Linked DNA regions of Homo sapiens. The protein of the gene in region 1 purifies or fractionates together with the protein of each later gene. This does not show direct contact. Each region holds a gene or a part of one and is shown in the gene's direction. Other genes may lie near its edges.

The links. Proteins that work in one complex are often made in the same cells at the same time.
Region 2: the proteins of CTRL (region 1) and PDIA5 purify together in Homo sapiens (affinity purification with mass spectrometry, with the first as the bait; one large-scale study listed by BioGRID). This does not show direct contact.

Annotation. Positions count from the first base shown.
Region 1 is NC_000016.10:67,929,074-67,933,110, reverse strand, and holds CTRL (chymotrypsin-like protease CTRL-1 precursor), read left to right. Parts: upstream 1-1,248; 5' UTR 1,249-1,258; coding exon 1,259-1,310; intron 1,311-1,909; coding exon 1,910-2,013; intron 2,014-2,111; coding exon 2,112-2,191; intron 2,192-2,303; coding exon 2,304-2,385; intron 2,386-2,522; coding exon 2,523-2,703; intron 2,704-2,792; coding exon 2,793-2,926; intron 2,927-3,015; coding exon 3,016-3,177; 3' UTR 3,178-3,537; downstream 3,538-4,037.
Region 2 is NC_000003.12:123,070,025-123,073,524, forward strand, and holds part of PDIA5 (protein disulfide-isomerase A5 precursor), read left to right. Parts: intron 1-3,500.

The DNA of each region.
Region 1 (4,037 bases):
TGAGCCACCGTGCCCAGCCAATTCATCTCATTTTTTGGCTGATGCTGTTTCTTTGAGATGGGGTCTAGCTCCATCGCCCAGGCCGGAATGCAGTGGTGCACTCATGGCTCACTGCAGCCTTGAACTTAAGGGCTCAAGTGATCCCTCCTGCCTCAGCCTTCTGAGTTGCTGGGACTACAGGTGTGTACCATCATACCCAGCTCATTTCTTAATTTAAAAAAATTTTTTTTGTAGAGACAGGGTTTCATGATGTTGCTCAGGCTGGTCTCGAACTCCTGGAATCAAGCCTCCTACGTCTGCCTCCCAAAGTTTTGGGATTACAGGTGTGAGCCACCACACCCAGCCCTGATCTGTTCTTGAATCAGTTAAAGCCCTCACACTCCCAGAAGGCCGCCAGCCAATGCACCTGTTGGAACTTTGCACACAGGGTGTCTTCTCCCTTCAAGCTTGGTCTGCAGCTCAGTAACAAATGGGCTACAGACACCAGGGGCTTGCCCATGGGAGCCCCAAGGCCTAAAGAGGGTGGCAGAGATTTGATGTCTGTCACTCTCCACCTGCAGCCTCAGTCCACGGTCGGCCAGGCACCAAGAGCTCACACTTTGCCCTCCTAAATGCCAGGCCCTTCATAAGTATCATCTCATTGTTAAGAGCGGAGGCTTCAGCGCCAGACAAATGCGAGTTTGTGTACAACTCAACCACGTGCTGGTGGGAGAGTCACCATCTCTGAGCAGACCTGTGACTCCTGTTCCAAATGGACGAGGAACCACTGCGATGATGTGTTAGGACTCCCAGCCTGCCAGAACCTCACAGCCCCTGGCCCTTCACAGCAAAGTTGACCGCAGTGAGCATTCCATCCACCAGTCAGAACACCCTGGACGCTGAGCGGCCTTCTCTGAAAGCCTGGTGCCTTTGTTAGCCCTGGGTGACTCCTGTGATCCCAGCCACCAGGTTGTCACTATAGACCTAATTTAACCATCTGTCCTCAGTACCGAGGGCTCAACATTTGGAATGGGAGGTGGTTCTGGGAGCCAATTAGAGGCCAGGCTTTGGGAGGTGGCAGAGGTGAGTCTCACACCTGGGCTCTGTCTGATAAGTCTAGGTCTCGGTCAGGGGACCTTGGCCTAAAGGGCCTGTCTTGCCTGGAGCGTGGGAGGGGGCTGAGTCTACACAGCTGGCCTGGCCTCAGGCCTGGAGCTTTAGCTCAAGGACGAGAAGACCCATAAAGCCAGACCCAGCTCCCAACCTCACATCTGCCACGATGTTGCTGCTCAGCCTGACCCTAAGCCTGGTTCTCCTCGGCTCCTCCTGGGGTGAGTGGGCCAGGACCAGCCCTGATTCAGCCCTGGGAGCAACTCAGCTCCCAGCAACAGCCCAGGGAAGGAGCTAGGCTGGCTGGAAGGGACGAAGGTGGACAGAGTGGGCAAAAGAAACAGGATATGCCAGGGCAGTGGAGCAGGGAACAGGCCTGCAGGGCTGGGAGGGGGCAAGAGGTGGGGTGGTCTCACAAATAGGACCAGAGATTGAGCCAGGCCCTGGAGCCCGGGAGGGTTTAGGAAGCTGAGACAGGAAGACCTGTCCATGTCTTTTAGAAAGAACCTTCTGGCTGCATGAAGGGTATGAACTGTTCAGGTCGGGAGGGGGCAGAGAGACCAGGGGTAGAGATGGGGAACAGCGGGGACTAGGCTGGAGACAGATGTAGGAGAACAGCAGGGCTGGGGGACTGGGTGGATAGGGATAACCAAGATAGCTGTGGGGCCCGAAGGTGCTTGCATGTACCCTGTTGGGGAAGGGGTAGTGCTGTACCCTCTCGACAGACCTCTCTGGGGTGCACAGCCTGGGGCACCCAAAAGGAGGTGGGGAAAGATGGGCTGAGGCATGGGAAGCAGGTCCTCATTAGCCCAATGGCCAGGCTGCGGCATTCCTGCCATCAAACCGGCACTGAGCTTCAGCCAGAGGATTGTCAACGGGGAGAATGCAGTGTTGGGCTCCTGGCCCTGGCAGGTGTCCCTGCAGGTACACCACCAGAGGGGTGGGCAGGGTCCTGGGTACGTCATGCCTAGGGGCAGCCTCAGCAGCCCACCCCCACTCTGACCTCTGAGCCCTGACCACAGGACAGCAGCGGCTTCCACTTCTGCGGTGGTTCTCTCATCAGCCAGTCCTGGGTGGTCACTGCTGCCCACTGCAATGTCAGGTGAGTGCCTGCATTCCACCTGCCCCGCCCCTCGCCTCTTCCTGCCTCCTCCCCTGGCTGTCCCCCTCTCGCGCTGGCCTCCCTGCAGCTGCCTAATCCCACCCCCTTGCAGCCCTGGCCGCCATTTTGTTGTCCTGGGCGAGTATGACCGATCATCAAACGCAGAGCCCTTGCAGGTTCTGTCCGTCTCTCGGGTGAGTGCCTGGGCTGCAGACACGGAGGAAAAGTGGGCAGTGCAGGTGGGTGGGTGCTGGGAACGAGGAATTCAGGACATGCCCTGGCCTACCCTGCTCAGCACCCATCAGAACATGGACTGTTTCTGACCCCACAGGCCATTACACACCCTAGCTGGAACTCTACCACCATGAACAATGACGTGACGCTGCTGAAGCTCGCCTCGCCAGCCCAGTACACAACACGCATCTCGCCAGTTTGCCTGGCATCCTCAAACGAGGCTCTGACTGAAGGCCTCACGTGTGTCACCACCGGCTGGGGTCGCCTCAGTGGCGTGGGTAGGGACTCAGGCCAAAGCTCAGGGTGGGAGGACTGGGGTGGGGACCAGTGTTCTGGGCCCCATGTGACCACCCCTCCTGGCCCACAGGCAATGTGACACCAGCACATCTGCAGCAGGTGGCTTTGCCCCTGGTCACTGTGAATCAGTGCCGGCAGTACTGGGGCTCAAGTATCACTGACTCCATGATCTGTGCAGGTGGCGCAGGTGCCTCCTCGTGCCAGGTAAGCCCCAGCACCCGCTCCTCTGCGCTGTCCTGTGGTATACCTCCCCAACCCCCCCTACTCAATTCTCCCTCCCTCTTCCCTCTCAGGGTGACTCCGGAGGCCCTCTTGTCTGCCAGAAGGGAAACACATGGGTGCTTATTGGTATTGTCTCCTGGGGCACCAAAAACTGCAATGTGCGCGCACCTGCTGTGTATACTCGAGTTAGCAAGTTCAGCACCTGGATCAACCAGGTCATAGCCTACAACTGAGCTCACCACAGGCCCTCCCCAGCTCAACCCATTAAAGACCCAGGCCCTGTCCCATCATGCATTCATGTCTGTCTTCCTGGCTCAGGAGAAAGAAGAGGCTGTTGAGGGTCCGACTCCCTACTTGGACTTCTGGCACAGAAGGGGCTGAGTGACTCCTTGAGTAGCAGTGGCTCTTCCTAGAGTAGCCATGCCGAGGCCGGGGCCCCCACCCCTCCTCCAGGGCAACCCCTTGGTCCTACAGCAAGAAGCCAGAACTGTTGGAATGAATGGCAGCCCTCCCTGGAGAGGCAGCCTGTTTACTGAATACAGAGGATACGTTTACAAACTGAATACGCATAATAAATAACTGCACATTCTCCATCCACAGGCCATGGCATGAAGGCCCAAGTGGGTCTATCAAAGGCCCACATCTCCAAACCCCCTGTCCTGCCCTCAGGACCAGGCCCACCCTGGGCAAGAGAGAACGTAAGCCCCAGGGCTTCAGGTCCCCAGAGACACTTGGGGAACTGGGGGGAAATTCTGAGGCCATGGGGCTTGGTTCTCCACTGCCTCCTGCCCAGGGGGCATTGGGGACGGTAGGAGGATGTGTCTAAGGCATAGTCGACTTGGCACAGAGTGGTCTCTTTAGTTTTGTTTCCCACTGGAGGTGGCACATGCAGGAAAAGGGCCTGGCCCAGGCTGCCGACCGGCAGAAGCTGAGTGGGAACCAAACCCTCCTGCAATGGCAGGGGCCCTGCCGTCAAGCTAAGGCCAAAGCTGGGCCCTGGCCCCATTCTACCCACTGAAGGCAGCTGTGGAGGAAGGGGCTTGGGTTCCAGCCTGGTTTGTGGTAGGGGGAGATACCACAAAAGAAATGGGGA
Region 2 (3,500 bases), on another chromosome or scaffold:
GGGTGCAGTGGGCTGAGATCGCGCCACTGCACTCCAGCCTGGGGGATGGAGCAAGACTCCATCTCAAAAAAAAAAAAAAAGAAGAAGAAGAAGAAGAAATATTCAGTCCATTGCAATGTTTATAAAGAATATTTTTATTTACCAGAATATTATGTTTATTATGAAAACATTTTATGATGTTTATGAAGAATATCTAAGGATGTGGAAAAATGCCCAAGTGTGATAAGTAAGGGAAAAGCAGGATGTAAAACCAAATCTGAGGGTGGCTGAAGTTACATGTATGAAGAATTAGTGCATCAAAATGTTAACAGTCATTGTTCTGGAAGGTGGAGTTGTGATGACTTCTGCTTCTTTGCTTATGCTTTTCTGTGGATTCCAAGTTTTTCACATGAATATGTATTAGTTTATAATCAGAAAAGTTAATAAAGATTTTTTAAAATGTTGCTTTGGGAACCCTTAGCCTTCCAAAAGAATACTGGGGAGGAAGGTGTCACTGTCAAACACGTGGGACAGGTTAGTTCCAAGAGCTTCCAGGCTGGGTGTCTGTGCCCTCAGAGGCTATGGGTGGCGGTGCCCTCCCTGCCAAGTGCTCCTGGACACAGGGGCAGGAGGTAGCCCTAGGGCACAGGGCGATCCCTGCCGAGCCATGCTGCCCTGCTCCCATCCCTGCGCTGACTGCCTGCTTTCCTGCTGTCCAGCTCAGCTCATCCCTGCAGCTGACTCTTCTCTAGGGCCGTCCATGCTGATTGTCCTGTTGGCTCCATCCAGCCTGTAGGATGGAGAAACGTCGAGCTGGAGTGAACTCTAGGTCTCCTAGCTCAGTGGTTCTCAAGCATTGGGCCAAGGACTGAAGCTGGGCTGGGATAGAGTTTTCTGGTCTGCAGTCAAACTGGAAAAAAAAAATGGTGTATTTTTTTGTTTGTTTGTTTTTCATGAATGCAAATGTTTTCAGTTTAAAAAGTTGTCAATTTTTCTGACATGACGATATTTTGAGGGGGAGGGGGTTACAGCATCCCTTTGAAAAATGAGGCTGGTTGTAGTATATTGTGATTTCTTTTTAAAAGCCCTTTCTTGATAAAATTTATTTTTAATAATATAAAATCCATTTTATATTTAAAAATATATATATTCTGCTGATCTGTGAGATTCAGAACTGATCTAACTCAGCCTTCTCCTTTTATAGGAGAATAGCGAGGCTTAGGGAGGGAAGGGACTCACTCAAGGCCACCCAGTTAGTGAAGGCAGAGCTGGGAGAAGAGCCAGATCTGCTGAATGTAAATCGGGTTCTTCCCACTCATCCATCTCCCGCCTGCTTCTCTGCCTCTGCCCCTGATGGTCGCTTGAAGCTCAGACCCTGGAGGACAGTGGGTGGAGGTGCAGGAGGCAGATGTTTGTTCCTGGCATCTCCTGTAGAGCTTTTAAGGTACACTTATTTAGGTTCTGTACTTCTCTGGGACGATTATATATTTAATAGGCTTTTGTGGGTTGGCCTGAGGACTGAATTGCCATTTAAAATGCTGTTTGGAACCTGTAGTGCACATTTCCCACAGAAATAAACACATTACAGCGGAAGTCTTAAAACAGACCCGGCATATAAGGTGGAAGTGTGGCTGAGTGCCATAAGAGTGGCAGCCCCTGTGTGCTGGGGATCCAGGACGAGGCCAAGCAGTGGGACACCGAGTGATCAGAGAAGGCCCCAGGAAAGAGCAAGGTGTGGACTGGCCTCACAAGGAGGGCAGACTTGGAGCTCTGTGACAGCAGGGAGCCCCCTGTCCTGGCTGTAGTGTCCCCAGCACCTAGCCCAGGGCCTGGCATGTCGTCAGCCCCGGTCCGTGTTTGGCTGATGGAACTAATGTCACAGGCAGAGAAGGAAACCTTCCAAGCCAGAGACATGGGAAATGAGGAATGATAGGCCAGGCTGGATGGAGGGAGGGTTTGAGTCTGGGGATGAGGGGAGTAAGACTGAAAAAGTGGATCGTAAAGAACTTTAAATGCCTGGCAAAGCTGTGGGGGACTCGATTCTGTAGGTAATGGAGAGACTTGATGAAAGCTGCCCTTTTAATAACAAGATCAATCAGGCCGCATGTAGGGTTGGGTGGGAGGGGGAGAGACTAATTTTCCCAGAACAACACTTTCATCCTTACTTTCCTCTCTGTTATCTACAAGATAAATTCAAGTGTTATGTAGTGGAAAGAACATGGGCTTTTAGCCAGCTAGACACTCAGGAGCTGCGTGACCTTGGGCCCTGCCTCAGTTTTCTTGTTTGTTAGTGGTGGTAATGATATCCATCTTGCAGTGTTGAAAGGATTAGAAAAAATACAGGAAGCACCCAACACAGCGCTTGGCACGTGAAAGTGCCCAGTCACTGGGAGTCTCAGCAGTCATTGCCAGTTGTTGAGTAAGAGATGATGGGGAAGGCAGTTAAGAGGAGGAGGTGGGCAAGGAAGGGCCAGAGAGAGGCTGCATGATTTGAATGCCAGGTACGGGTACCCCTGTGCAGCTAGGATTCTCCCCACGGGAGTTACTTGGAGCTGAGCTCTTGACTGCCTCCTTGCCTCCTCTCTGCCAGGCTGCTGCAGAGATCCCAGGTAGGGGGGGTGGTGCAGAAGGGCTCAGGATGTAAGTGTGCTTGGTTTCTCTCCCCTTTCTTCTGAAAGTAGATCCCCTCTTGAGAATGAAGACACCAAACACACTGTATCCCAGGAGGGTTTTGCCCCAGCTTTGTGGTTTTATTCTGTTGGGCTCTTGTGTCTTGCTTGGTGGTTGTGGTAGCCTTTGAGGCTGAGTGACAATGGGCCAGAAATGAATGCATGGGGTATAAGGAGAGGCGGAGGTTCTTCCACATAACCTGGACTTGGGATGGTTTATTTGCCCCCTACCTCTCCTTCTGTGTGTGTGTGTGTGTGTGTGTGTGTGTGTATGTGGTGTTGTTGTTTTTAACACCTGGCATCTTAGGTCCCAACGGGAGAGGGAAGGAGCAGGAGTGCTCAGCCCTGGTGGGCTGGCCCATTCCTTCTGCCTGGCCATCTTTCAGCACTGCCTGGAGCCTCTGGCTCCCCGTGTGATCTGTTGGCAGAATTGTCAAATCGGATGCATTTGTAGAGGGCTTGAGAGTTTGCAAAGCATTTCCACGTATTTCACGACGGTGTGGTTTTGAGCCCCATGTAACTTGGTGAGGTGAGTAGGCTAGCCCAGTACCATCATCCCTGGAGAGGGATGGGTGGCTGGACAGGGAGGTGGGAAGCAACATGTCCTTAGACGAGGTTGAGGTGTCTGTGGCCTGGAAGATGAAGGCATAAAGAGATAGGTGGGGACCACAGTCAGAGTTCTCAGTGCCTGGCTTGAATGTGTAAGCAGCTGCGTTGGCAGCCATTTTCCAGGAGTGTCCCTGAAACTTGCTTTTCAGCTGCTCCCTGGTGGCTTTGGCATTGGACAGGGGTGGCCAGCCAGGTACATGCTGACTGTATCCTTCCCCCAAGGAGCTCCAGTTCACTGTCCCC